Homo sapiens: one gene and its partners. The protein of the gene in region 4 purifies or fractionates together with the protein of the main gene of each other region. This does not show direct contact. Each region holds a gene or a part of one and is shown on either strand. Other genes may lie near its edges.

Region 1 (7,036 bases), on a different chromosome or scaffold from region 4:
AGCAAAATTAACAATGAGAAAACCCCTGAGTCAGTGAGTGTGGCAGAGTGTGTATGGGAGCTTTGTTTCCCTGACTCAGAGGAGAGCGATTGCCCTGGTCCAGACCCACCTGGGCCCTGCCTATGTGCCATTTACCTCACAGGGAGGGTTCTGTGAAGAAAATGGAGACCACGTGAACGCCAGCCGCCAGCAAGTCAGTAACCCCTGTGCACCATTTCCTTTTTTTAAAACAATTAAATTCCAAGGCTAAAAATGTGCAGAGACCGCCTCCTTCACTTCCAATGCTCCCGGCAGACACACACAAGGAACTCAGTCCTGAGACACTGATTTCGTGCCACATCCCACGTGTCCGTTCTAATGTCACCCCAAATACAACCTCACTGGCTACAAATAAGACAAAAATGAAAACTAAAACACACACGTTTATCACCCCCCAATGAGGCAACCCGGCCAGGAGCCCAGCAGGCAGATGTGCCTGTACGAGATGCTGGCCAGCAGTGCAGAGGGTGAGACGGGGGCCAGGCCTCGTGGAAGGGGATGGCACGGGCACAGCTGTGCGGAGGAGGGAAGTCTCAAGGCTTCTTGCGCCCAAGAGCGCGCACTGCAGAGGGGAAGAGGCTGGGAAGGCAGGCGGCCACCGCGGGGACAGTGAGGGCACGGGCTGGACTGGGGCCCCAGCAGAGGTGACAGCAGATGCCCTGAGGCCACTCCTCCAGCACCAACGAAATTGAGATTGTTGCCCCCAGAATCTGCTATCCCAGAATCTGCTATGGAGGCACAGGGAGCACAGAGACCACGAGACTGAAAATGTGAACTCAATGACGGAGGGCCTGTGGGAACCAAGGAGTGGCAACATGGGACATGCAGATGGCAAGTATTGTATAAAAAGAATGTTCCAGAGAGCTCAGCTGAGAGAAGAAGGCAGGACAGCAAGTATTGTATAAAAAGCATGTTCCAGAGAGCTCAGCTGAGAGCAGAAGGCAGGACAGCAAGTATTGTATAAGCATGTTAGCATGTTTCAGACAGCTCAGCTGAGAGAAGAAGGCAGGATAGCAACTAATGGAGGACACGGTCTAAGGATGTTTTCGTTTTTTAAAAAGATGAGTAAAACTTGTGGACTTTTATATGCTAAGAAAAAGCAAGTAGGGAGGGGATTGAGGCAGGAAAAAGATGTGACACAGCGGAGCCCCCAAGGAAGAGGGTCCAGCACAGCAGAGTCCATTAAGGGCCTGGCGGAGATACAGGGTGGGGAAGGTGGTGCAGGGGGCACAGTCAGGATGGAGGGATGCAGGAGAATGAAGGGGCCCAGCATCTCCACCAGAGTCTCGGGGTGGGGGGAAGAGGTGCAGGAGGCACAGTCAGGATGGAGGGATGCAGGAGAATGAAGGGCCCAGCACAGCAGAGCCCATCCAGGGCCTGGCGGAGACACAGGGTGGGGGGGAAGGTGGTGCAGGAGGCACAGTCAGGATGGAGGGGTGCAGGAGAATGAAGAGGCCCAGCATCTCCACCAGAGTCTCGGGGTGGGGAAGGTGGTGTAGGGGGCAGAGTCAGGATGGAGGGATGCAGGAGAATGAAGGGGCCCAGCATCTCCACCAGTGTCGGGACAGGGAAGAGGTGCAGGAGGCAGAGTCAGGATGGAGGGGTGCAGGATAACGAAGGGGCCCAGCATCTCCACCAGAGTGTCCGGGGTGGGTGGGTGGAGGCGGCGGGAAGGGGGCAGGCCAGCATAGCAGAGCCCAGCCAGGGCCAGTATCTCCACCAGAGTCTCAGGGTGGGGAAGTGGTACAGGGGGCAGAGTCAGGATGGAGGGGTGCAGAATGAAGCGGACAGGCCCAGCTGAGCCGAAGCCATGCTGCTATCTTCCAGCAATACTACTATAATAAAAAGGAAAACAATCCGCAATTTAAAAAGTGACACAAACCTTCATGATGGCTGGATCAATATAATCAGCTATATTATGGCCTTCCCAGATTTCTGGTATCTTATCATGTTTTTCAGACAAATTCATTAAATCCCAGTACTCTAAAGTTAAAAAAAAGGTGGTTACGTTTACAGCAGTTTTTAATATCTTCAAGTACTACGTGCGCAAAATGAGTTGTGACTGACGGCAAATCAACGACTCCACTGCAGAAGAGAGCACGACGTGCAATTCCACATGCAGCAGCATCAACACATCAGCCTCATTCAACACCCACACGTGGAGAAAGCTACAGAAATCACCCCACCATCCCAAAACAACAGGAAACAACACATCAGCCTCATTCAACACCCACACGTGGAGAAAGCTACAGAAATCACCCCACCATCCCAAAACAACAGGAAACAACACATCAGCCTCATTCAACACCCACACGTGGAGAAAGCTACAGAAATCACCCCACCATCCCAAAACAACAGGAAACAATGGAAGAACCCCCACTGAGTGCTATCAGCATGCACCTTTCTTTGAGACAGAGTCTCACTCTGTCGTCCAGGCTGGAGGGCAGAGGTACAATTTCTGCCCACTGCAGCCTTGTCCTCCTAGGGTCAAGTGATCCTCCCACCTCAGCCTCCCGTGTCACTGGAACTACAGGCACATGCCACCACACCCGGCTAATCTTTGTATTTTTTGTAGAGACGGGGTTCTGCCATGTTGCCCAGGTTGGTCTCAAACTCCTGGGCATAAGGGATCCAAAGTGCTGTGATTACAGGCGTGAGCCACTGCACCTGGCCCTCAGGATGCAACTTTTAATCTTCAAGAAATTAAAAGTTGACAAATAGGCTGAAACACTTTTATTACTTATTAAAGTCTTTCCCCCATTTTCTGAAATACTTCACGTCCAATTGGCATTTTATAATAATGATCACACTCTGGCCCTTACTCTGAAGATCCAAAATATAATCATCTCCCATTTCCAGCTCAAGATCTCGTTCCTGCAATAGAAAGAGAAATTATCATCAGCTTCATTTTGCCTTTCAGATCCAGAAATGCTCTGCCCCTTGTCACTTGAAACAATCTTTTCTCCAATCCTCTCAGTATCAGTGGGGTTCACCTTCCATTTCTGGTAGGAAGGCTGTTTCTTATCTCCCTGTCTGCGGGGCCAGCCTTTGGGTTCTGGTAGGAAGAGGCTGTTTCTTATCTCCCTGTCTGTGGGGCCGGCCTTTAGGTTCTGGTAGGAAGAGGCTGTTTCTGGCCATCTGGGGACTGTCTATCCCACTCATGCATTTGGTTCACGGCCATCTTCCCTCAGGCCAAAGAGCCCCATGAGAGAGGCTTCTGCAGGGGGACTCACTGCTGTGTCCGCAGCCTGACGGGGCCAGTGTCTGGGCACCCGCGGCTCCTGTTCGATGCCCCAGGCCCCCACGATGGGCACACACAGCCTGCCTCCCCCCATGAGAACACTGGGCGAGAGCTTCGGCAGCATACCCTCTTCTTCCTGGACTCCTCAGTTTCCATCCTCTTCCTGCGAGCCACCACTCCTTCAGGGATGAAAGGGGGCCTCTCCTGAGAAGATCCCATATAAAATATTTATGTGAAATGCCTGCTGAATGAGAAACTTACAAAGCCGAAAAAGTAGAAACAAATTCCCTACGTGCAAGGGGAACAGAAAACCATACCCAGACCAATGAACAACCAACAGATTATTTTAGGGGAGAGGAGTGGGTTCATACCGAGACCAATTAACAACCAACAGATTATTTTAGGGGAGAGGAGTGGGTTCAGGGTCACTTTGAGCACAGAGACCAGGAGGACTCCACAAAGTGATTCCAAAGTTTATCCAGGAAAAACAGAAATCATGATTATCATGAAAAATTATGGAAGAAGAAAGTGGTAAGAAATAACACTGGATCAACAGATGAAAGAAATTTAGACATAAACTCAAGTGCATATAAGAATTCAATGGAAACATAAAATTTCCAATACTCAGGTCAGAAATGCCGACCACTTGAAACGGAGTGCAACCTCCACCCTCACAACATAACCAACTCAAGACACGGTGAAGACTATCCAAAAAAGCTAATTTTTAATGCTAGTATAAAAGATAATTTTTTTTTTTTGACAGAGTCTCACTCTTGTCACCCAGGCTGGAGTACAGTGGAGTGATCTCGGCTCACTGCAACCTCCACCTCCCAGGTTCAAACGATTCTCCCGCCTCAGCCTCCTGAATAGGTAGAATTATAGGTGCGCGCCCGACTAATTTTCGTAGTTTTAGCAGAGATGGGGTTTCACCATGATTGCCAGGCTGGTCTCAGACTCTTGACCTCAGGTGATCCACCCGCCTCGGCCTCCCAGAGTGCTGGGATTACAGACGTGAGCCACTGCACCCAGCAAGAAAAGATACTTTTAAAATGACTTTGGAATGAATGGTAAGCCTTTCTATGTACAATGCAAACCTGAACACCCAGAAAAAAAAATTAATATATGTTAATAGTTCAAAAATGTACAGCACATTTGAAGTTAAAAAGGCAAGTGACAAAAAGAGAAAAAAATTTGCAATGTATCTGACAAGAATCCAACCTTTGTAATACAAAAGTAACAAATCAGCGAGAAAAAGATAAACAGCCTAAAGAACTTTGAAAAGGCCAATAAGCAGACAAACATGCTCAACCGCACCCAGCATTACATAAACACACAACAATAAAATCATCTTTACACAAGACTGACAGTCAGTGCCCGACCACGCCGAGGACACAAGGAAAGACAGAGGGAAGGACACAGCCTCCAGCGTCAGTGCAGCACACACCAGGAAGGCGTCTGTGGGACAGGAACGTTGTCAACACCACATGGTGAAGTGCAGACACATTTGCAGTAAAACATGAAGACACAGCGTAACGATGTGTGCCCATTCACAATGGACAAAACAATGAAAATTTATTTTATTTATTTTTTATAGAGACAGGGTCCCACTATGTTGCCCAGGCTGGTCAAGAACTCCTGGGCTTAAGCAATCTTCCCACCTTGGCCTCCCAAAGTGCTGGGATTACAGGCGTGAGCTACTTCCCCCAGCCAAAAAAATGAAAATTTAAAGAATGAAACAGATTTCCATCTGTGTTTAAAGAACTTTTTAGAAACTAATCTTCTATATCAGAAACATTTCTGGAAGGATAAACTAACAGTGACCACGTCATGCAGTGGGAAACGGGTGCCATGTGGCGTTCTGCACTTTCTTCACCTTCTCGATCCTTTATGTAAGCAAGAAGGTGAAACTGAGGCCCACCCACAATATCCACCTGCGAGTGTGTGAAGCTGGATGGGAGGCTTCTGGAAAAGGCACGCAGACAGCACCTGCTGACAGTACTGTGAGCCCACGGCTGTCCCAGGGGCCGTCTTACCTTATCGTCCCTCCTGGTTGGGATAGCCAGGTGCAGTCTATTCAGCACCTCATTCACTTTATTTCCCTTCATTTTGGTTTCCACTCGATGAGCCAAAAGCCTATCGCAAGCCTAATAACGTAAAAAAGAAGGCACAGTCACAAACGCATCCTCCAGCAGCCTCCAGCTACAGGTTCCAGGAGGAGCCACAGATCAGAGCCACTGAGCCTTTTCCCTCAAGGTAACTAACACGTAGGGGGCCACATTCTCTGAGGCCCAGGTGGAAGCGGCCCTGAGGGAAGGTGCATCTCCAGTGCCTGGGCCTCTCTCCCACCACAGTGACCCTCTGCACAGACGGTGCCCTCCAACTGCCCTTCACGAACCGGAGGCAATGTTGCCCCTCAGGACTCTAACCGAGCAACAAATTCCTGAGTGCGACCATGGCATCAGGAGTGCCATCTTTTTAAATCCTGAGTGCGACCATGGCATCAGGAGTGCCATCTTTTTTTTTGAGATGGTATCTCGCTCTTGCTGCCCAGGCTGTAGTGCAGTGGCATGATCTCAGCTCACAGCAACCTCCGCCTCCCAGGTTCAAACGATTCTCCTGCCTCAGCCTCCCGAGTAGCTGGGATTACAAGCATGCGCTACCACGCCCGGCTAATTTTGTATTTTTAGGAGAGACGGAGTTTCACCACGTTGGCCAGGCTGGTCTCGAACTCCCGACCTTGGGTGATCTACCCGCCTCAGCCTCCCAAAGTGCTGGGATTACAGGCGTGAGCCACTGCGCCTGGCCAGAAATGTCCTTTTATTTGAGATAAAAACAACATGAAATACAAAGTAATTAGGACAGCATGTGAAATCCAGCAGCGGACTGCCTCCTGCAAAAGCTGTTCTGCTTTTCAGACTTTTCTCCCTTCTACTTCGAACAGGTTCCATAAAAATAATTTTCACTGTACTTGCTACCGAAATATTAAAAGGCCAGAGACAACAGCTGCTTTAGGGTAAAGTTGTTTGGGGTGAGAAGAGCAAAGCATCCCCTCACAACCCACTGTCCACGGGGGGCAAAGTGGGTCTTAGAAGGGTCTGTCTTCACGCCCCACTCTCGCACGCCACCCGCCTCGCTACTGCGAGGGCTCCAAGTGTTAACAATGTCTAGAAAGAAAACTATTTTCTCCCCACAACTGACTTGAATCAAACAAGAGACAGTAAAAAGACTAATACCTGACTTAAGGCAGCACTGACCTCTGTTTTAACTTTAATAACACCTTCCTCAGTCAGGGTGCTGGTCTCTATTACAGGGAATCCTTCAGACTGCAAATCTGTAAATATTTTCTGGGAATGCAAAGAAAAAACGAGAGATGTATTATTCATTTCCAGTTCCCTATGGAACAAACTGTACAGTTCTGCAAATGGAGGCTGCAAATGTGAACATCTGTGGTTGTTTCAAAGTCTTAAAAAACAGACATATCCTAAAAACAGTTATTTTCTTCATATTCTTCTATGATCAAGAAAACACAAATGACATCAAAAAGATGGCCGACTAGTAGCCCCTCACATCTGTCCCCCACAACAAAGGCAATCAGAATAACGAACAACTACATGTTAATAACTGAGGGGGAGCTCCAGAGGGCATCACAGGAGTAACAGGCACCCTGGGGAGCAGAAAAACGCAAGACGATGAAATACAGCCCAAAGAAAACACCAGGGGCCAGGCGCGGTGGCTCATGCCTGTAATCCCAGCCTT
Region 2 (6,904 bases), on a different chromosome or scaffold from region 4:
GCTGGCAAGTCCAAAATCTAGGTGCCAGCAGATCTAGTATCTTAGTATTTGATGAGGCACTCTTCTTGATTTGCAAACAGATGTTTTCTCGTATCCTCACATGGCAGAGATCAGAGAGAAAGGAGGTAAGCTTTCTTGTGTCTCTTCTTACAAGGATGATAATCTCATCATGAGGACTCCACCTTCATGAACTAATTACCTCCTAATACCATCCCATTGGGGGTTAGGGTTTCAACATATGAATTTGGCGGGACACAATCATGCAGTTCATAACAGCCTTCTATGCCACTGAAGAACTTCAGCTTTTACTCTGAGTGAGAAGGGAAGTTGGAAGAATAACCTGATCCATTTAAGGCTCTCTCTGACCACTACATGGAAATACAGTGTAAGAGGGTAAGGGAAAATGCAGAGAGACCAGTTAAAGGTCAGTTACCAAGTATGTTTCCAGGAGAAGGGAGAGACCAACTGTGTCCAATGCTGCAGGTTAAGTTAAATAATGAAAATTGATGTGATTGGTGATCTTGATAAAAAACAGTTTCAGTGGAATGGTAGAAGCAAAAGATTGATCGGCAGTTTCTTAAAAGTTACACGTAAACCTATCATATTGATCCAGTTATTCTATTCCTAGACATTTACCAAGATATTTATGTCCACATAGAGACTTGATGGCACGACATGGTGGCTCAAGCCTGTAATCCCAACACTTTGAGAGGCCAAGGCGGGAGGATCACTTGAGGCCAGGAATTCAAGACCAGCCTGGACAACATAGTGAGACCCTGTCTTTTATATATATATATATATTTTTTTTTTTTTTTTTTTTTTTTTTTGAGACGGAGTCTTGCTCTGTCACCAAGGTTGGAGTGCAGTGGTGCGATCTTGGCTCACTGCAACCTCCACCTCCTGGGTTCAACCGACTCCCCTGCCTCAGCCTCCTGAGTAGCTGGGACTACAGGTGCGCGCCACCACGCCCGGCTAATTTTTTGTATTTTTTAGCAGAGACGGAGTTTCACCATGTTGGCCAGGATGATCTCGATCTCCTGACCTCGTGACCCGCCGCCTCGGCCTCCCAAAGTGCTGGGATTACAGGCGTGAGCCACTGAGCCCAGCCAAAAATATATTTTTTTAAATTAGCTGGGCATGGTGGCACACCACCTGTAGTCCCAGCTACTAGGGAGGCTGAGTTTAGGAGTTCAAGGCTGCAGTGAGCTATGATCATGCCACTGCACTCCACCCTTGGTGACAGAGCAACACCCTATCTCTTAAAAAGAGACTTGAACATGAATGTTCACAGCCAAAACTGGAAACAACCCAAATATCCAGCAACTAGTGAATGGATAAACAAATTGCAATATGTCTATATGATGGAATACTACTCAGGAATAAAAGGAGTGAACTATTGATACATACAACACCATGGATACATTTCAAAATAATTATGCTAAGTGAAAGAACCTTGACCTCAAATAATAGGTACTGTATGATTCCATTTGTATACAATTCCAGCAAACACAGACATATCTTTGGTGACAGAAAGCAGATGTGTGTTTGTCTGGGGATGATGAGGCACAAGGAACGTTTGGGGATGATGGATATAGTCATTATTTTGATTGTGATGATGGTTTTATGGGTACATACATATGTCAAAACTTATCAAATTGTTCACTGGGTAGTTTGTTGTACATCAATTATATCTTAATAAAGCTATAAAATAAATACATTATAATTTTAAAAATAAAGGATGGAATTTCACATGAAAGCAGAGATGTTGGCCTTAGATACCCAAATTATTTAACATCTGAAAAATATATATTCAGTTAGCCACTCTTAGTCTTAGAGTTCTCATTTATCAAAAACAAATCCTGCCTTCCATGCTGCTGGAGGTAAAATGAACTGACCTATATGCCCTCCTTAGAATAGCAATTAAAGCCTTTCATATCAGGACAATATAACCTTCTCAGCTCTTTCCCTGCTGCACCCTGCCCTCCCAGCCTTTAGTCACACCAAACTTATGGCTATTGTTTCAATACACCAGACATTTTCAAGTACCTGTACGCAGTCTTTTTTCTTTTTTTTTTTTTTTTGAGACAGGGTCTCACTGTATTGCCCAGGCTGGTGTGCAGTGCTTCACTGCAACCTTAACCTCCTGGGCTCAAGCAACCCTTTTGCTTCAGCCTCCTCAGTAGCTTGGACCACAAGCCTGTGCCACCATGCCTGGCTGATTTTTCAACTTTTTGGTAGAGATGGGGTCTCACTATATTGCCCAGGCTAGTCTTGAACTACCCAGCTCAAGTGGTTCTCCCACCTTGGCTTCCCAAAGTTCTGGGATTACAGGCTTGAGCTACCACACTTAGCCAGATTTTGTTTTGAGAATACTTTTTTTGCCCTCACTAAAACAACCTAGCCAAAAAATTTTAATTTAAATCTATGCTTTTTAAAAAAGATTTATTGCTGACATTTATTTCTTAACTTCACAGGTAACTGATTTGATAATTAATAAATAAGTCATTCTCCAAAAGCAGCTGAATAACATGGTTTGTGAAGCATTCTTTATTTTGTGTGCAGGTGTGATTACAGAGTTGTTTTGTTTGGGGCTCATTTTATCATCGTCACAGATGAGGTTGGCGTTCTATAAAATTGCTTTGGTTAAGCAGAACCCTATTGTCTGGCTATTTTGCCAGACCAGCAACCAGCTACCAGCTGTTAGGCTATGTTTTTTCTCATGTAGTTACAATCAAGACTGTCTAGATTGAAATCTCATCTTCCTCACAGGCTATGAATTGAGGCAGTCAACTTCCCTGAGCTTGTTTCCTCTTCTGTAAAATGTAGATAACAATAGCACCTATTTTAGAGGGTTGTTCTGAGGATTAAATAAGTTAATACAAGTGCTTGGAATAGTGCCTGGCACAGGGTGGGTAATTAGGTTTTTTTTTCTCTCTCTCTAATTCACAACACCCTACCTCATTCATTCAACCCTTATTGATTTTTTACACCTTGAGATTGTAGAAATGTATTCTCCTCTTCGAATTACCAGGATCTGAATTAAAAACTCTGACTGAGGAGTGCTTACAAAGCTTATAACGATGGTTGAATTTTAACGATTAATTGCATTTATTAATGGTCAACATGATCACATTTTATCCAGCCCTCTTTTCCCTTGTATGGGTCACGCTAAGTTGAAACAACCAAAACCAAAATAAAAACATATCTAAAATCATACACATTAACTTATATGACCCTCGTTGCTCTTTTTTCCTCCTAAGAGGGAATAGTGTTATCTAGCGCCACGGTTCTTTTCAGTTTTGTTTTGTTTTGTTTTGTTTTTTATACGGAGTTTCGCTCTTGTTGCCCAGGCTGGAGTGAAATGGTGCAATCTCGGCTTACCGCAATCTCCGCCTCCTGTGTTCAAGCGATTCTCCTGCCTCAGCCTCCCTAGTAGCTGGGATTACAGGCATGCGCCACCACGCTCGACTAATTTTGTAATTTTAGTAGAGACGGGGTTTCTCCATGTGGATCAGGCCGGTCTCGAACTCCCGACCTCAGGCCCGCCTTGGCCTCCCAAAGTGCTGGGATTACAGGCGTCAGTTTCTAATTTTAGACTGCGGGATTAAAAATAAACGATTAATCCTCATTTATGTGCTTCATATGGGTGTCGGAATGACGATACATGCTAACACACGTGAAAAAATTTACATTTCAGATCCTTTCAGAAACGCAAGGCAATATTAAGTAGTAGCATATGCCCAAGGGCGAGGGGCGGGTCGGCGGTGGCTGGCTCTCCAATACACCACAGAGTATTTTGGCAACGAGAGTAATTTTGACACTCTGAGGCTTCCGTAGCATAGCTCGCTTTAGGAACCGCTAAGGTGTCGCCTGCCTAGAGTCCCATGCGCTATTTCCGGTCATACCCGGAAACACGAGTCCAAGCTGCAGCTGGCAGGGATTGCGGGGTGCCGGCCGTCTGAGTTTTTTTAAAACTGCTCGCCGCGAAGTCTGTCTGCAGCCAAAATGTCCAACAGAAACAACAACAAGCTTCCCAGCAACCTGCCGCAGTTACAGAATCTAATCAAGCGAGACCCGCCGGCCTACATCGAGGAGGTGGGAGTGCGGCGCGGCAGACGCTAGAGGCCGGATAGTGGATGGTTGAGACGCCGGTGCGGGAAAGCATGGAGTGGGGCTGGGATCCAGGCTCGCCGCCTATTCTTCTGTTAGGTTCAGGGGTCCCTCCAGAGGAGAGAAGGGGTTGGGGACGGGACATGCCTTAGGGTTCGTTCCCCACCTCTTGAAAATCTGTTGCCCCTTTGGATTTTCTACCTGCCCTGCTGCCGCTGAAACACCTTTAAAACCTCATTTTGTTTTAAGATATTTTTCTTCGTCCGCACGGAAGTGGAGAGAGAAATGGGCCGCACCCAACCACCAACTTCCACGCGGATTTCTCAGCCTCTTTTCAGAAATCCCAAACTTGAATTAGTCGGTAACCTTTGATGAATCGTATGTTAGAATGCTTTCGATTGACGTCCGTTTCTGAGAGCAGGCTGTGTACCCTGGACTGTGCCAGGAAAGGGGGGGGGGGGGTTTCTCAAGCACAACGGACAGACTCGGGAGCTTAGTATATTTAGTTAAGCCAGGATTCAAACTTACCGGAGACTGGCATGACTCGGATGTCAGAATTTGCTTCGGGAAAAGATTAGGTTGAAAAATTAGGCCCTCATTGTGATGGGCTTTGTGTACTGACCTCATGTAAGTTGTGAACATTAGGGGTGTTTGAACCAAGTACCGACAAAACGAAAGTGGTTTTTGATATATTAATCTGACAGGTGCTTCCTTCAGACACTCATTTATCAGACGGGCATTAAACAGGTATCTCTGCTAGGCATTTGCTGCAATTACATGTTTGTGCTTCTACCAGATTGTGATTTGTTCAGTGGCTAACACAATTACTTATTTTTTCATTGCCCTTCTCACTTCCCTCCTCCCCTAAATTTTCACATATATGTATTTTATGAGTGCTTTTTAACACATGGCAATCTCAGTGGCTTAGGTCACCAGTAGAGAAAGCCTCTCCAAGGATCAAGGTAGTGGAAATAAAGAGTAGGAAACAAGTACAAGAAGTTAAGTAACATAGGCAAGGCTTTGAGATGCTTAAAGCATTGTATAGCCATTCGCAAAGAAAGTGGTAAGTTGAGAGTCTATATAATTCCGTTAGATAACTCCTGCTGCTGACTGTTGTTAACCAGTTGTGTAACCGAAGCAGGTTAATCGCTGAGCCTATGTGGGTATTTTAATATGTAAGAAGGGGGTAATAACTACTTCTTTAATTCACTTAAGTATATATGCAAAATCACATATAACTACTGTGTGTTGTTATTCTAGGTAGGCGTTGGGGTACAGTAATGAATAAGACAGATAAGAAAGCATTCTTCTCTTGGACTTACATTCAAGTGAGTGTAGACTTATTATGGTAGAGATTATGAAGAAAATAAAACTGGATGGGAATAGGTTAGAATTGGAGGCTTCTGATTTAGACCCCGTAAACAGGGAAGGTGGCTCTGCAATGATGATATTGAGCCAGGCAGGTAAACATCATTTTAGGTACAAGGAATAGAAAGTGCAGAAGCTACTGGTGGAAAAAAAGCAGAGAAGAAGCCAGTGTAGCTAAAGTGTAGTCAGCATAGAAGAGGGCAGTGGAAGATGATGTAGGAAATGCAGGCAGGGGTCAGCTTATTCAGAGCCTCTTAGGCCCTGTTAACGAGTTTAGATTTCACTCTGAGTGCCTCGGGGAGTGATTGAAGAGTTTTAAGCAGGAGAGTGACATGATCTGACATATTTTTTTTAAGAATTTACTCTGGAAGTTACATGTGGAATGGCTTGTAGAGGAGCAACACTGGAAGCAGGGTAACTAATATAATGGATCTCAGAATAACCAAGCAAGGGATTGTGGTGTCATTGGAATTATGGGCAAAGATTCGTGCTGTTCTACGTGGAGGTAGAGCTAGTAGAGCCTTGGGATTTCTGGTGGAGTGGATGTGGGGGATAAGGAAAAAAGAAGGAATGAAGGATCACCCAGGTTTTTTATTTATATGTCTAGGTAGATGATAGTGCCATTTCCTGAAGTTCGTTCATTTGACAAATACTGTTGATTACCTGCTATATGTAAGGCACAATGCTGGGCCCTGGGACTACATAATATTGAGCTGTACCGATAAAAATTCTATGCTCATTAAATGACATTCTAGTAGGGGGTGATATACAGTAACAAATAATATAGTATGTTAAATAATGAAAAGTGCTGTGAAAAAAAGACAATAGGAAAGTACTTATGTATGTTGGGGGTGAGATGGGTATTGCAGTTTTAAATTGGATAGTTAGGGAAGGTCTTCTTGAGATAGTAATCTTTGAGTGAAAACCTGAAGGACATGAGGGAGAGCTGTGCATATGTTTAGGAAGAATGATCTAGGCAGAAGGAACAGAAGGTATAAAGACCTTGGGGTAGGTATGCCTGGTAGATTTCAGGAACATAAAGGCCAGTGTGGCTCCAAATAGGGAATGAGGAAAGGGGGTGAATTTGGGATTCTACCTCCCAATGAGATGGAAGCCTTTACAGGGTTTTGAGCAGAAGAATACATGAACCACCCTATATGAGAACAAGATCACCGTTACTTGAGGATAGACTGTATGTAGGAGGGCAAAGATAGAAGCAGAGACACCACATAAGAAGCTATTGGAATTATCCACAGCAAGAGATGATGCTGGGTTGAGTGGTGCTAGGATGGTAACAGGAAGTAGTAAGAAGGGTGATTAGATCCTGGATTGGGTAGGTAGAGAAAGCCCTGGGGATTCCCAACATTTAAAGGCCAGTGAGTTTCTAAGTAACTGGAAAAAGGGACTGAGAAAGCAGCCAGTGAAG
Region 3 (7,036 bases), on a different chromosome or scaffold from region 4:
GATTACAGGCATGAGACCCTGAGCCCAGCCTAAATCAGAATTTTAAAACACAAATAATCGATTCTTCTAAGTGGTGATTTCATTTAGTTACCCAGTCCAGGTTCTTTTTTGGAAAATAGCCTGAAAACAGTGTTTCTGTGAATTGTTCATTTATGCATTATTTTGGGATGTTACATGGAAACTTTGTACCCCAAAATCACCATACGTAATAAATAGTCTGAAATTTTATAGCTAAGCTTTATTATGGGTTATATGATCTCTCAATTATTCAGAATAGGTTTCACAGTTAACATTTATACCTCTTATTACCTGGCACAGTGCCTTATACCTAATAATGTATTTTAAAAGTTGAATTGCTTCTAACTTTTACTGTTTTTGTTTTTAGAAAAGGTATAGTTTGGCAGTGGGGCCTCCAAAAAAAGACCCAAAAGTTAAAGGTGTCCAATCAGCAGCTGTACAAGCTTTTCTTAAAAGGAAAGAAGAGGAGCTGAGACGAAAAGGTATGTATCTATAGCCTTATTCTCAATTTTAAAGTATTCCATCTTCACCATCTAGCTTGTACTAAACCAGTGGCTGTCTATAAAAACATAACAGGCCAACAGATTTGGGAGGGTGTGTGTGTGTGTGTGTGTGTGTGTGTGTCCAGGTTAACTGACTGTATTCATGGCTTTACATATGTTACCTCGATCATTTGTATAAACGTTTTCTTTTTTTCTCCCCTTGAAGTAACAGCTTTTTGGGGGTTAGTAGCCATGTCTTCTAATTGGCCATAGTAAGTCCCCAGTAAGAACTCCATTCTTTCTTTAATCTTGGTTCTGAAAGTGTTTCTACCCATTTTGTATTTTAATTTTTATTAACAGAATGCTATCTAAAAGGCTAAAATAGAGATAAGTTTTAAAGTCTTTATTTCGAATAGTTCTACTTCATGCAAATACAAAGAAACTGATTCAATATGTTTAAGTATTCATTGAATCATAATTAATAACAACTACTAAGTGGATACTAATGTTCTCTTAACTTGGTAATGTATTTGGTTTGAAGTATTTTGTATATTTAAAGCTGAAAACCAAGTCTCCCACTTGCTTAGTCATATAGAAAAACCCATATGTCTCCCACTCATTATGTAAAGATGACTCAATTGATACTTGTTCACATGACTTCCTCATTTGATTCCTAGATGTCTTCAAACTGTAACCTGAACGTTGTGTTTTCACTTGAGCATACTGCAATCTTGAGATCTCGAAGTAATAACATATTCTTGTTTTGTCCCTTTTAGCCTTAGAGGAGAAAAGGAGAAAAGAGGAACTAGTGAAAAAGCGAATTGAGCTCAAACATGACAAGAAAGCAAGAGCTATGGCCAAGAGGACAAAGGATAATTTCCATGGTTACAATGGGATTCCTATTGAGGAAAAGTCAAAGAAGAGGCAGGCAACAGAAAGCCATACCAGCCAAGGAACCGACCGAGAGTATGAAATGGAAGAAGAGAATGAATTCCTCGAGTACAATCACGCAGAGTCAGAGCAGGAGTATGAGGAAGAGCAAGAACCTCCCAAAGTTGAAAGCAAACCAAAGGTCCCCCTTAAAAGTGCCCCACCACCCATGAACTTCACTGATTTACTCAGGCTGGCTGAGAAAAAGCAGTTTGAACCAGTGGAAATCAAGGTAGTGAAGAAATCAGAAGAGCGACCTATGACCGCAGAAGAACTTAGGGAGCGAGAATTCCTTGAACGAAAGCATAGGAGAAAAAAACTTGAGACAGATGGAAAACTACCTCCAACTGTGTCCAAAAAGGCACCCTCTCAGAAAGAAAGTGTGGGCACAAAACTTAGCAAAGGTTCTGGAGACAGGCATCCTTCTTCCAAAGGAATGCCCCTTCCTCATGCTGAGAAGAAATCAAGACCCAGCATGGCCAATGAGAAACACCTCGCTTTGTCTTCATCCAAATCCATGCCAGGAGAGAGGATCAAGGCAGGATCTGGCAATAGCTCCCAACCCTCACTTCGTGAGGGCCACGACAAACCTGTTTTTAATGGAGCTGGAAAGCCTCATTCCAGCACCTCTTCACCAAGTGTCCCAAAGACTTCTGCTAGCAGGACTCAGAAATCTGCTGTTGAGCACAAAGCCAAAAAATCTCTGTCCCATCCTAGCCATTCCAGGCCTGGGCCCATGGTCACCCCACACAATAAGGCTAAGAGTCCAGGTGTCAGGCAGCCAGGCAGCAGCTCTAGCTCAGCCCCTGGGCAGCCCAGCACAGGGGTTGCTCGACCCACAGTTAGTTCTGGCCCTGTGCCTAGGCGCCAGAATGGCAGCTCCAGCTCAGGACCTGAGCGATCAATCAGTGGGTCCAAGAAGCCAACCAATGACTCAAATCCCTCTAGGCGGACAGTCAGTGGTACATGTGGCCCTGGACAACCTGCAAGCAGCTCAGGTGGCCCTGGGCGACCCATCAGTGGTTCAGTTAGTTCTGCAAGACCCTTGGGCAGCTCTCGTGGCCCTGGCCGGCCTGTGAGCAGTCCACATGAACTTCGACGACCAGTGAGTGGCTTGGGCCCCCCGGGGCGGTCTGTCAGTGGCCCTGGGAGATCCATAAGTGGCTCAATTCCAGCTGGACGGACTGTCAGTAATTCAGTCCCAGGAAGACCAGTGAGCAGCTTGGGACCTGGGCAAACAGTTAGTAGCTCAGGTCCCACTATAAAGCCTAAGTGCACTGTTGTCTCCGAAACAATTTCTTCCAAGAATATCATTAGCCGGTCCAGCAATGGACAGATGAATGGAATGAAGCCTCCCCTATCTGGCTACAGAGCTGCCCAAGGTAAAATTTCCCCTCACCCGAAAGAGTATATATTTGTCATTAGGAAATTGGAAAGAGTTTTTATATTATCAGGGACCCTTTGAACCCCTCATGTGCTGTCCTTTAATGTGCTGTAGTGTTGATAGAATCGTGATGTTTTATCTGCCTTGTGGTTGAGAGTTCCTTGTTTTTTTGTTTTTGAGACAGGGTCTTGCTCTGTTGCCCAGGCACAATCACAGGCTCAAGCAGTTCTCCCACCTTAGCTTCCCAGGTAGCTGGGACTATAGGCGTGTGCCACCATGCCTGGCTAACTTTTTATTTTTTATAGAGATGGGGTTTCAGTATGTTGCCTATACTAGTTTCTAACTCCGGGGCTCAGAGATCCGCCTTCCTCAGCTTCCCAAAATACTGGGATTATAGTCATGAGTCACTATTCCCTGCTGAGAGTTCCTTTAATGGCTTGGAAAGGTCTTTAGAAAGAGACTTGTCTAGGATCTCTGTGTTCACCCTTGAAATGTCCCTAAGTGTGATAAACTTAGCTTTGTGATTTGTGAACATTCAGGGTGAATGTACGTGACTTACATATGTATGCTGCAATGGATGAATTAATCTACTTTTTCCTGAGGACTAAAGAGACCTGTCTTCAAGGATCAGGGTATAATCGGAAGCTTATTCAGCAGATATTTCTTGGGCACCCATTATGTGCCAGGAACTGTTTTTAGATTGTACTTGTGTTTCTGCTTGTTATAATGGTTAGTATCAAGATCCTAAACACTGATCCTTCAGGAATCTGCTGTCCCAAGGTATATGATCATTGGTGGCACCTGCTAGCTGCTAGGTCGTACTTGCTTTATGCTAATAGAGATTTATTAAAGCACTTGTTAGGCTCCACGGAGAATATAAAAAGGAACCAATGATTGAATTACTTGTTTTAAATTTCCTAGTTCAACTAGACCATTGATTCTTAACAAGGGCAATTTTGCCCTCCAGGGGACTTTTGGCAATCGTCACAACTGGGGATGGGGGATGCCACTGGCATCTACTGAATAGAGGACAGGGATGCTGCTGACAAACAATGCATGGGATAGCCCCCTGACAGCAAAGAATTATCTGGTCCGAAATGTCATTGAGCTAAGGTTGAGAAACTAAGCTAGGGAGACAAGCCATGCATATTAAAAACAACCGTAGAAGAACAAAAGAAGTGTCTGTAATCAAAAACTAGAAAGTAGTTGTTCCCAGATCCTGGGCTGTTGATCAATGCCTGTCTTTTGCAAAGTTTTTATCAGTCTTTTGGTAAAATGACAAAAATAAGGATAATGTAGTGAGTTTTTCCTACAGTCAAACTTACTCAGTTTGAACAATATAATTCTGAGAGTCATTCATACTTCATTCAACTTTAAATTTTTAAATGAAATTGTGATTATAGTAGATGGTAGTTGCTACTTTTGGTGTCTTGGCAAAAGTTAATGATTCTGTGGAGGTTTGTAAATTGTATTTATTTTTAGAAATTTTACTGATTTTGGCCGGGCGCGGTGGCGCCGCCTGTAATCCCAGCACTTTGGGAGGCCAAGGCAGACAGATCACCTGAGGTCGGGAGTTCGAGACCAGCCTGACCAACGTGGAGAAACCCCATCTCTACTAAAAATACAAAATTAGCCAGGCGTTGTGGCACATGCCTATAATCCCAGCTACTCGGGAGGCTGAGGCAGGAGAATTGCTTGAACCTGGGAGGCAGAGGTTGCAGTGAGCCGAGATCGCACCATTGCACTCCAGCCTAGGCAACAAGTGAAACTCTGTCTCAAAAAAAAAAAAAAGAAAGAAAGAAATTTTACTGATCTTATAAATTCAGAAATATTGGCACTACTAAGCTAGAAAATGTAACAAGATATTTCTGGTAAGCCCTGGGATAAAACAGGAGTTCTGTTCCTTCTGGATACCATGACACAGCAAGGATGATGGCTCTGCGCTAAGGGCCAGCCTGCTTGCTCTGGTTTTAAAGGATACCATCTTAATGATGACTCACAATTTCAGTTTACATAGAACTGCATTGGAACTATTTTAAATTGTAATATTCTTATAAATAATGGTTTCTTAGGTCCTCAAAGGCTTCCCTTCCCTACTGGTTACAAAAGGCAGCGAGAATATGAAGAGGAAGATGACGATGATGATGAATACGACTCTGAAATGGAAGATTTTATTGAAGATGAAGGAGAGCCTCAGGAAGAAATATCCAAGCACATTAGAGAAATCTTTGGTTATGACCGAAAAAAGTAAGACTAAAGAAGATTCAGATAACTATGACATCCTTTTTTTATTTTGAATAATTCATGTCATGGGGTAATAAACTAATAGTGGAGGCACTGAATACAATTCTTAATTAGGAACCCTTGGGTGATTGTTATTTAAATAAACGTACTCTTTTAGCACTAAATATTTTATATTTAATTCAAAATAGTTTCTGTAGTTATTTGCATGAGGAACAAAAAATAACCCTTTTAAATTGTTATTCTTATAAGATATATATTTAGTGAGATGGAAGCAGCTTAGTGTAGTAGAAGTAGATTGGCTCTTGAAAAAACAAGCTGTATGTTCTTGGTCAGTCTGTTAACTCAACTGCTTCAGTTTCCTCTGGTCTAAAGTCTTTCCCCACCTCATGATGGTCATGAAGCTCAAATTAGATTATTATATATAAAATAATTTTCATATATACTGTGCTTTCAAATTTTAATATAAATTATCAAGTAAATGTAGGTGAGTGAGTTGAGGAAGCACTGTAGGATTGGTACCTTCATGAACATTAGCTTCAGAATAGTTGCCCTCTGAGGGTAATAAGGGCTTATCTAAAACTTGTCTTTACTTCAGAAACCTATCCATCCTCCACTCCCCTCACTCGCTGCCAAGCAAGGAATAATTCTAAATGTGTGCTTGATTTAGTTTTAAAGGAGATATTGATTTTTTAAATGAGAGGACGTAGTTCCTTTAGAAAATTGAAGTTTTCTCTTTTTATCATTTTGATTTCCTTTTATCAGATACAAAGATGAAAGTGATTATGCCTTACGTTACATGGAAAGTAGTTGGAAAGAGCAGCAGAAGGAAGAAGCAAAGAGGTAAGCATAAAATTTAGCATACTTGTGCAAAAATGTCCTAAAAATTCCTTTCTGCTTATTGCTACAATTGCACCATTGGGAACTGGGGCTTTGGGCCAGAGAATTCTGGATTCCAATCCTGTTTACTAGCTGTGGGGCCTTGGACAAATTCCTTAACAGTTCTGTTTTTTCACTGGTTTTTGTTTTTTTGTTTTTTAACAGAGATGGGGTCTCGCTATGTTGACCAGGCTAGTCTCAAACCCCTGGCCTCAAGTGATCCTCCCATCTCAGCCTCCCAAAGTGCTGGGATTACAGGCATGAGCCACTGCACTGGACCATCACTGTTTTTTTTGTTTGTTTTGTTTTTAAGAGATGGGGTCTTGCTTTGTTATCCAGGCTGGTCCCAAAGTCCTGGGCTCAAGCAATCCTCCTGCCTTAGCCTCACAAAGTGTTGGGATTATAGGTGTGAGCCACCATGCCCAGCCTATTTTCTTTTGTAAAATGAGAATATACTGTTTTACTCATTTAAGTATAATGAGGATTAAGACGTGTACAAGATGCCTAGTGCAGTGCCTCACATGTGTGGATACACAGTAAATGTTAGATGCTTTCCCTAATCCTGTTGTAGCAAATTCTTGCTTTTCTTTCTGCATCAGACACATCTCAATCTTGGTAACCTGTAACATTGCTGGCCTCAGGGATGTAGGTATATTACATTTCCTCTGATTTCTGTTTGGCTATCTGATAGTAAGCTAATGATACTTTCTCTATTGGGGTAAAAAGTAATTACTTTGTTTATAGTATTGTTGTTTTTTTTTTTTTTTTTTTTTAAGAGACAGGGTCTTGCTCTGTCGCCAAGGCTGGAGTGCGGTGGCATGGTCACGGCTCACTGCAACCCCCACCTCCCCGGGTTCAAGCGATTCTTCTGCCTCAGCTTCCCAAGTAGCTGGGACTACAGGTGTGCGCTACCACGCCCAGCTAATTTTTGTAATTTTTAGTAGAGATGGGGTTTCACCATATGTTGGCCAGGCTGGTCTCAAACTCCTGACCTCAGGTGATCCGCCTGGCTCGGCTTCCTAAAGTGCTGGGATTACAGGTGTGAGCCACTGTGCCCGGCCATAATGTTATTATAGGTAAATAATTCACTTCAGTCTCAAGC
Region 4 (7,326 bases):
GGGTGGGGTGCGTTCAGAATGACAAATCTGCCCAGGGCTTCCCAAGGCTGACCACAGAGGCAGTGCCTAGCCCCATCAGTCCTCACTTTGACTTCCATAAGGGCCTGAGTCACCTCCCTCTAATGACCTGCCACTGACTGCCCTATCAAATCTATGTCCTCATCACCCTGTGACCACTAAGGATAAATTGAGGGATACCTTAGCCGAGAGTCATGCTGAAAGGCTACCAAGGCTCATAGTAGTGGTACTCTGTTGGGTCCCCTTTGTTCTGGGAAGAAAATCCCTTCAGTCTTTGCTCTGGGTTCTAAACTAAACTCCTGGTTACCCCCAAAGACTCCTTCCACTGCTGACCTCAATGCGCTAGCCTTAGTTTGTACCCTTCCCCACGACCACCACCAGAATATGAAGCGAGGGGTCACCTGGGCCTTACAGCCACGCTAGGGACCTCCCAGAACTTACAGGAAGGGCAGGATTCTCTAAGGCCGCCATCTTTATGGGAAGCTAGTTTCCCCCACAGCCCACACTGGGGCATTTCATTAACACGTGGCAGAGCATAGTGTGTCCGGAATTGGTGGGTTCTTGGTCTCAAAAGCTGCGGACCCTCGTGGTGAGTGTTACAGTTCTTAAAGGTGGCGTGTCCGGAGTTTGTTCCTTCTAATGTTCGGATGTGTTCGGAGCTTCTTCCTTCTGGTGGGTTCGTGGTCTCACTGGCTCAGGAGTGAAGCTGCAGACCTTCGCTCGTGGTGTTACAGCTCATAAAGGCAGTGTGGACCCAAAGAGGGAGCAGCAGCAAGATTTATTGTAAAGAGTGAAAGAACAAAGCTTCCACAGTTTGGAAGGGGACCCCAGCGGGTTGCCAAGGCTGGCTCGGGCAGCCTACTTTTATTCTGTTATCTGGCCCCACCCACATCCTGCTGATTTGTCCATTTTACAGAGAGCTGAGTGGTCTGATCTGACAGGGTGCTGATTGGTGCATTTACAATCCCTGAGCTAGACACAAAGGTTCTTCACCTCCCCACTAGATTAGCTAGATACAGAGTGTTGACACAAGGGTTCTCCAAATCCCCACCAGAGTAGCTGGATACAGAGTGTCCATTGGTGTATTCACAAACCTTGAGCTAGACACAGGGTGCTGATTGGTGTGTTTACAAACCTTGAGCTAGATACAGAGTGCCGATTGGTGTATTTACAATCCCCTAGCTAGACATAAAGGTTCTCCAAGTCCCCACCAGTCAGGAGCCCAGCTGGCTTCACCCAGTGGATCCCGCACTGGGGCCGCAGGTGGAGCTGCCTGCCAGTCCCGCGCCATGCGCCCGCAGTCCTCAGCCCTTGGGTGGTCGATGGGACTGGGCACCGCAGAGCGGGGGGCGGCGCTCGTCAGGGAGGCTCCGGTAGGACAGGAGGGGGGGTGGGTGGGGTGGGGGCGGTGGGCGGGGCGGGGCGGGGCGGGGGCCGGCGGCGGGGGGGGGGCGGGCGGGGGGGGGGGCGGGCGGGGCGGGGGGGGGGCCGGCGGGGGGGTGGTGGTTGGGGCGGGGGCGGGCGGGGTTGGGGGGGGCTGGCGGGGTTGGGGGGGGCTGGCGGGGTTGGAGGGGGCTGGCGGGGTTGGGGGGGTGGGAGAGGCTCAGGAATGGCGGGCTGCAGGTCCTGAGCCCTGCCCCACGGGAAGGAAGCTAAGGCCTGGCGAGAAATTGAGCACAGCAACTACTGGCCCAGGTGCTAAGCCCCTCACTGCCTGGGCCGGGGGGCCTGCCAGCTGCTCTGAGTGCCGGGCCCGCCAAGCTCATGCCCACCGGGAACTTGCGCTGTCCCGCAAGCACCACGTGCAGCCCTGGTTCCCGCCCAGGCCTCTCCCTCCACACCTCCCTGCAAGCTGAGAGAGCCGGCTCCGGCCTTGGCCAGCCCAGAAAGGGGCTCCCACAGTGCAGCGGTGGGCTGAAGGGCTCCTCAAGTGCCACCAAAGTGGGAGCCCAGGCAGAGGAGGCACCAAGAGCCAGCGAGGGCTGTGAGGGCTGCCAGCATGCTGTCACCTCTCAATAGGACTCCTTCCCCTGCTGCCCGAGGCAGACACCGTGGTCCAATACCCTCATCTCCTTGAGAGGTTAAAGGTGGAAATTCCAGCTACCCCTACTTAGGATCACCCAGGCTTGAGAGCAGAGGCTGGGCTCTGTGGGGACCGGTCCGCTATGGCAGAAAGGGAGTTTTATGGAACTCACCCTTTATTGACTCCTGGAGGGTTCTAAGACCCTTATCTCAGGTGGCTTGATGCCAACACCTTAGTCCAATGCTATCACTTCCCTGACTCTCCAGAAGAATAATGCAGAGTGCGATACCCAAGAGGATCCCTGCCCGGGGTTTTTTCGGCTTAAGGCAGAGGCTGGACGGCATGGCGTTCTTTCTTTTGCGGTAGGGGTTCCCCTCAAACATTATTCAGTGTCTTTGCCTTACCTCCTGGCAGGGCCTGGATGCCTTCCTCTGCTGACCAGATACCAACCGCCTCACTGCAAGGCCTCACCTCCCACGGACGGCAGAAGCGGAAGTGTGTGTGACATCCGGGCATCCTGCCCACGGACCGAAGGGCTGCCAGCAAGGGCGGTGTGGCGTGACTTTCTGTGGCGCCCCCTTTGTTATGGAGTAGTAGTAATATTAAGTCCTCCTCTAGGAAGTATATCCATGTTTTCGCTCCTAATTCATTGATTAAAGGCCCCTTAGGGAAATAATAACCCTTTATTGACTACTGGAGGGTTCTAAGACCCCAATCTCTGGTGGCTTGATGCCAGCACCTTAGCCCAATGCTATCACTTCCCTGACTCTCCAGAAGAATAATGCAGAGTGCGATACCTAAGAGGATCCCTGCCCGGGGCTTTTGCGGCTTAAGGCCGAGGCCGGACGGCATGGCGTTCTTTCTTTTGTGGTAGTGGGTCCCCTCAAATGCTATTCAGTGTCTTTGCCTTACCTCCTGGCGGGGCCTGGATGCCTTTCTCTGCTGACCAGATACCAATCGCCTCACTGCAAGGCCTCACCTCCCACGGACGGCAGAAGCGGAAGTGTACGTGACATCCGGGCATCCTGCCCACGGCCCGAAGGGCTGCCAGCAAGGGCGGCGTGGCGTGACTTTCTGTGGCGCCCTCTTTGTTATGGAGTAATAGTAATATTAAGTCCTCTCGGAAGTAGATCCATATTTTGGCTCCTAATTCATTGATTACAGGCTCCTTAGAGAAATAATCACCAAACAATAAGCTCTGGACAGTTTTGCAACATAAACCGTTACGGATAATGGGTTTGCGTTCCAGGCTTGATGGGAGAAGAGAGGCCGCAGCACAAAGGTAGGGTGCCCAAGACAGATTCTGAGATGTTGGAGTAAGTGCATTATAACTATGGGGTCTCTTCACTGGCGAAATGTAGACATTGCGAACTTTCTGTTCTAAAAGATCTACTTTCTATAGAGAAGCCATAGATGTACACAATTTTGTGAGACCCAGATCTCTTGACTTTATCTAACATTGCATTGTATTGTGCAGTGAAATTCATTTTAATTATGGTCTTATTTGTTCCACCAAATATATTATATGCATGTTCTATTACTACTGCTTTGTGTGGCAAGGCTTTTGATTTTGCTACAGTGATTTATACACCGCTTTTCAGAAGTCATTTATTGATTTGGATTGGGTGTGGTCTTTTCCTTTGGATTTTCTAAAATGATGATCACATTTTCACCAAATAATTTCTATTTCTATTAAATATTTCCAAGTTACATTTGTTTTTATAGTCTTATCCTCTGGCCATGTATTCAGCATACATTTATGTCTGGTTCCTTGCTTTAATGAGAATGCGTCGAGCGTTCAGCATTTCACATTTAAGTTTGTTTGCCATAGGTTTTAGGAAATGAAAGTTATCTTCTGATGTTAGTTTGTGGAATGTTATCAAGCATTTGTGTTGAATTTTTTGTTGAAAAATTTTTCTGTACCTCAGTACATGATCGAATGCCCATTTAAAAAAATGTAATGGCCGAGCGCAGCTACTCGGGAGGCTGACACATGACGATTGCTGGAGCCCAAGAGATCGACACCAGTCCGCAACATAGTGGGAGTCGGTCGCTATAAAAAATTAAAAAAAAAATTAGACGGGCACGGTGGCGCACGCCTGTAGTCTGAGCCACTCTGGAGGCTGAGGCCCAAGGATCTTTTGAGTCCAAGCAGGTCGAGGTTGCTCCAGTCTGGGCGCCAGAGCAAGACCCATCTCAAATAATAATAATAATAATAATCTAATCTGTTAGTGTGAGAATATTTTAGGCAATTTTTTTCTAATGTTGTATTATCTTTACATTTCATGGATACAGACTTTTTTTCCATTGAATTAACTGCAATATTGGACCTGCTATGTGTTTATTGAGGATCTTTGCCTCTGTGTGGGTGAACTTGGCTCAGTTGTTCCCCTCCCCGCACCTAGGTTATCCTCAGCTGTTCTTTTTGTTTTGTTTTGTTTTTTTGTTTTTTGTTTTTTTAATCAAAGAAAGCTAGCCTGGGAAAGTGAGTTGAACATCATAAGATGGTGGTTATTTTTGTGTTTACATAAGATGGTCAGCTTTTCACTGCTTATTTGGTAGAACTGGTCCCAAAATGCCTGGTCCCAAAACATTTGAGGGTGGCTGGAGCTTTGATCAGTTTCATTTTGCGTTTCGCAATTACAGATTTTTATTTCTATTTGGATTAATTGGGCCATTCATATTTTCCTAAATAATGGTCTGTTTTCATTTGGGGTTTCAAATTTAATGATTATATATATTCTTTTTATTGTAGAAATTCTCAAATATATTCTACTGTAGAGAGAATATACCTGGAACTCAGAATCATCAACACATGGCCAACCTGGCTTCGTCTATACTCACACATAACACCATGTCTGCCAGTGGAATAATGTGAAACAAATCCTAGGCATCACATCATTTCATCTTTAAATATTTCAGTATGTGTTTTTAAAGACAGAAATATTAACTGATAACACTACCCCACCTTATAAAATTAACTCCTTCATGTAATTAACTGTTCAGTTATTTTCACATTTACCCACTGACATCATTTAAGTGTGTTTTTTCTTGAACCCGGGTCCAAATAAATCTAATCATTATCACTGCATTTTATGACCATTAATTTATACATTCTTCCCCCCAACACACATACATTACTTCTTTATCCCTGCAATCTTTGTTTTTACAAAAAAACAGATCTTATGCTCTGTTCAGTTTCACATGGTCTGGCTTTTGCTTTGTGCAACATTAATGTCATTCTTCTCTGTATTTCTTTCAATTGGTAGAGGTTTTATCATATTAAAATTTAATTTTTATTCTCTCTCGTTTTATTTGGAAAGATCACTTTACAGGTGATGTGAACTTTCATTACGAGGAAGTAACTTCCATTATGAGGGGGACCGAATATTTGTCTCCCTTTTTGTTGATGTTGGCAGTCTTTGAAGATTAGTATATTTATCCATTAATTAATTAGGGTTTGCAAAATGTTAATTTTTCTAATTCTACCATTCCTTCTGATTTCATTAGATGAAATATATCTTTCTGTAGAAATCATCCCTTGTCTATCATTTGTTAATGATATTTACAGTGTTCTCTTATGGTATTCAAGTTCCTTCTGCACCTATTTTTGTACAGTATTTTAAAGCTACTATCAGTTTTCTTTTGTAATTGAAGATGACTATAAAATTGTCTCCTATATAAATCTTTTAAAAGAATAGGCTTTTGTTAGTTGGCTCCACTGTCTTAATTAATCATTTCTGCATTTATCTTAGTTATTTCCTATGCTTTATTTCTTTGGGTTAAATATGGTTTTATTTCTCTAGCTTCTTGAAGTTTTGCATGTTTAAAATATTTCTGTTTTTTTCTAATCAGTTTATTTAAGGCTGTAAATATTCCTTTGTGTACCACCTGATTTGTTTCCCACAGGTAATGCTATAGAGTTTTATGTGCAGTGCTTGATTATTTTACAAGCTGAATATATCTCTGTATTCCTTATGCTCTTAGAATTTTTTGAATATGTGTGCGCAAATGCTAGTGAGTGCAAAAATTATTTTGGGGAAGGATGTGAAGAAGAGAGACATAGTTATTTAGAGGAGGTTTCAGTCTCCCAGGGGTGTTTTGTTTTGGTTACATATAATATAAAAGACTTGAACACATTTTACTGCTAGTGACTCAGTTGAGGCTTTCCTGTGAATGAAATGGTCTCACATTAGAACAATCAATATAATTAGCCAAGTATAACTGTTAAAGATTATCCAGGAAAACAGAAATTACTTTAAATACATAAGTCAGGTTGAATATGATGCACAAAATTGGTTACTCAAGTGATGGAGAAGCCAAACGGGAGAGGCGGGCAAGCCAATATTTGGCAGCTTAAGAAATTTTCTTCAGTCTCTAGGATAGAAACAAATAAAGGAGATAATGTTAATGGAGCCTTGGAGTTGGGGTCAATAGGATCTGGAACTAAGGTGGATAAGTATGATGAGGGTGAGAGCCATGGAGAAGATGTAAACCTTGAAAGCAGTTGAAGGCACCTGATGCAGAGAGAGAAAATAAAATATAAACTCTAGCTGCTTCTGTCCTCCTGTACTGTACTAACCTGCTGGTGCCTTCTGTTGCTTGAACCATGATGGCAGCCAAATGTTGGAGAACATAGGAAGTGCAGCCTACAATCATCTCCTGAACACTGGAGAACAGAGCAAGGAAAGAGAGAGAAAGGGATCTGAGGCCAATCAGGTCAAGGACTGGCATATTGCCTTGACATATTGTGAGAAAAATCATATCTAAATTGATACAGAAAAGTATTTTGTAAAAATCAGCATTAATTCATGATAAAAAGAGATGTTATCAAAGTAGATAAAGGATATCTACCAAAATCTATAGCAAATATTCTACTCAGTAGAAAAACATTGGCTATTGGAAAATAGATAAGAATAGCTGCTATCACTATTTTTATTCCACATTATAATAGGGGTTCCTGCCAATGCAGTAATGGGAAACAGATGAAATAAAAGGATTGGAAAATAAGATGATTTAGATGTCAGTTCTCAAATTATCTTTAATCAAAATCCCAGAAGGATTTTTGTAGAAGTGAATACACTGACTGTAAAATTAATATGGACATGTGATCGACCAAGAATAGCCAAAACGACTTTGCAAAACAAGAACAAAATAAGAGGACTAATACTACCCAATCTCAAGACTTATTATAAAATTCAAGTAATCATGACAGTGTGGCATTTTTGTAAAGACAGGCAAATAGATCAGCGAAACAGAATAGAAATACCAACAATAGACTTCAG

What was found.
Region 1: the proteins of MAGEB10 (region 4) and GTPBP4 purify together in Homo sapiens (affinity purification with mass spectrometry; 2 studies listed by BioGRID and IntAct, with this or other methods). This does not show direct contact.
Region 2: the proteins of MAGEB10 (region 4) and SDAD1 purify together in Homo sapiens (affinity purification with mass spectrometry; 2 studies listed by BioGRID and IntAct, with this or other methods). This does not show direct contact.
Region 3: the proteins of MAGEB10 (region 4) and SPTY2D1 purify together in Homo sapiens (affinity purification with mass spectrometry; 2 studies listed by BioGRID and IntAct, with this or other methods). This does not show direct contact.

Annotation. Positions count from the first base shown.
Region 1 is NC_000010.11:1,005,406-1,012,441, reverse strand, and holds part of GTPBP4 (GTP-binding protein 4), read right to left. Parts: intron 6,625-7,036; coding exon 6,535-6,624; intron 5,425-6,534; coding exon 5,314-5,424; intron 3,485-5,313; coding exon 3,407-3,484; intron 2,914-3,406; coding exon 2,862-2,913; intron 2,023-2,861; coding exon 1,922-2,022; intron 1-1,921. UniProt on the Homo sapiens protein: Involved in the biogenesis of the 60S ribosomal subunit. Acts as a TP53 repressor, preventing TP53 stabilization and cell cycle arrest.
Region 2 is NC_000004.12:75,987,943-75,994,846, reverse strand, and holds the start of SDAD1 (protein SDA1 homolog), read left to right. Parts: upstream 1-3,901; 5' UTR 3,902-4,005; coding exon 4,006-4,095; exon of another isoform or gene 4,096-4,136; coding exon of another isoform or gene 4,137-4,151; intron 4,152-6,904.
Region 3 is NC_000011.10:18,610,339-18,617,374, reverse strand, and holds part of SPTY2D1 (protein SPT2 homolog), read left to right. Parts: intron 1-385; coding exon 386-500; intron 501-1,276; coding exon 1,277-2,812; intron 2,813-4,886; coding exon 4,887-5,061; intron 5,062-5,820; coding exon 5,821-5,898; intron 5,899-7,036. UniProt on the Homo sapiens protein: Histone chaperone that stabilizes pre-existing histone tetramers and regulates replication-independent histone exchange on chromatin.
Region 4 is NC_000023.11:27,803,664-27,810,989, reverse strand, and holds the start of MAGEB10 (melanoma-associated antigen B10), read right to left. Parts: upstream 3,001-7,326; 5' UTR 2,954-3,000; intron 1-2,953.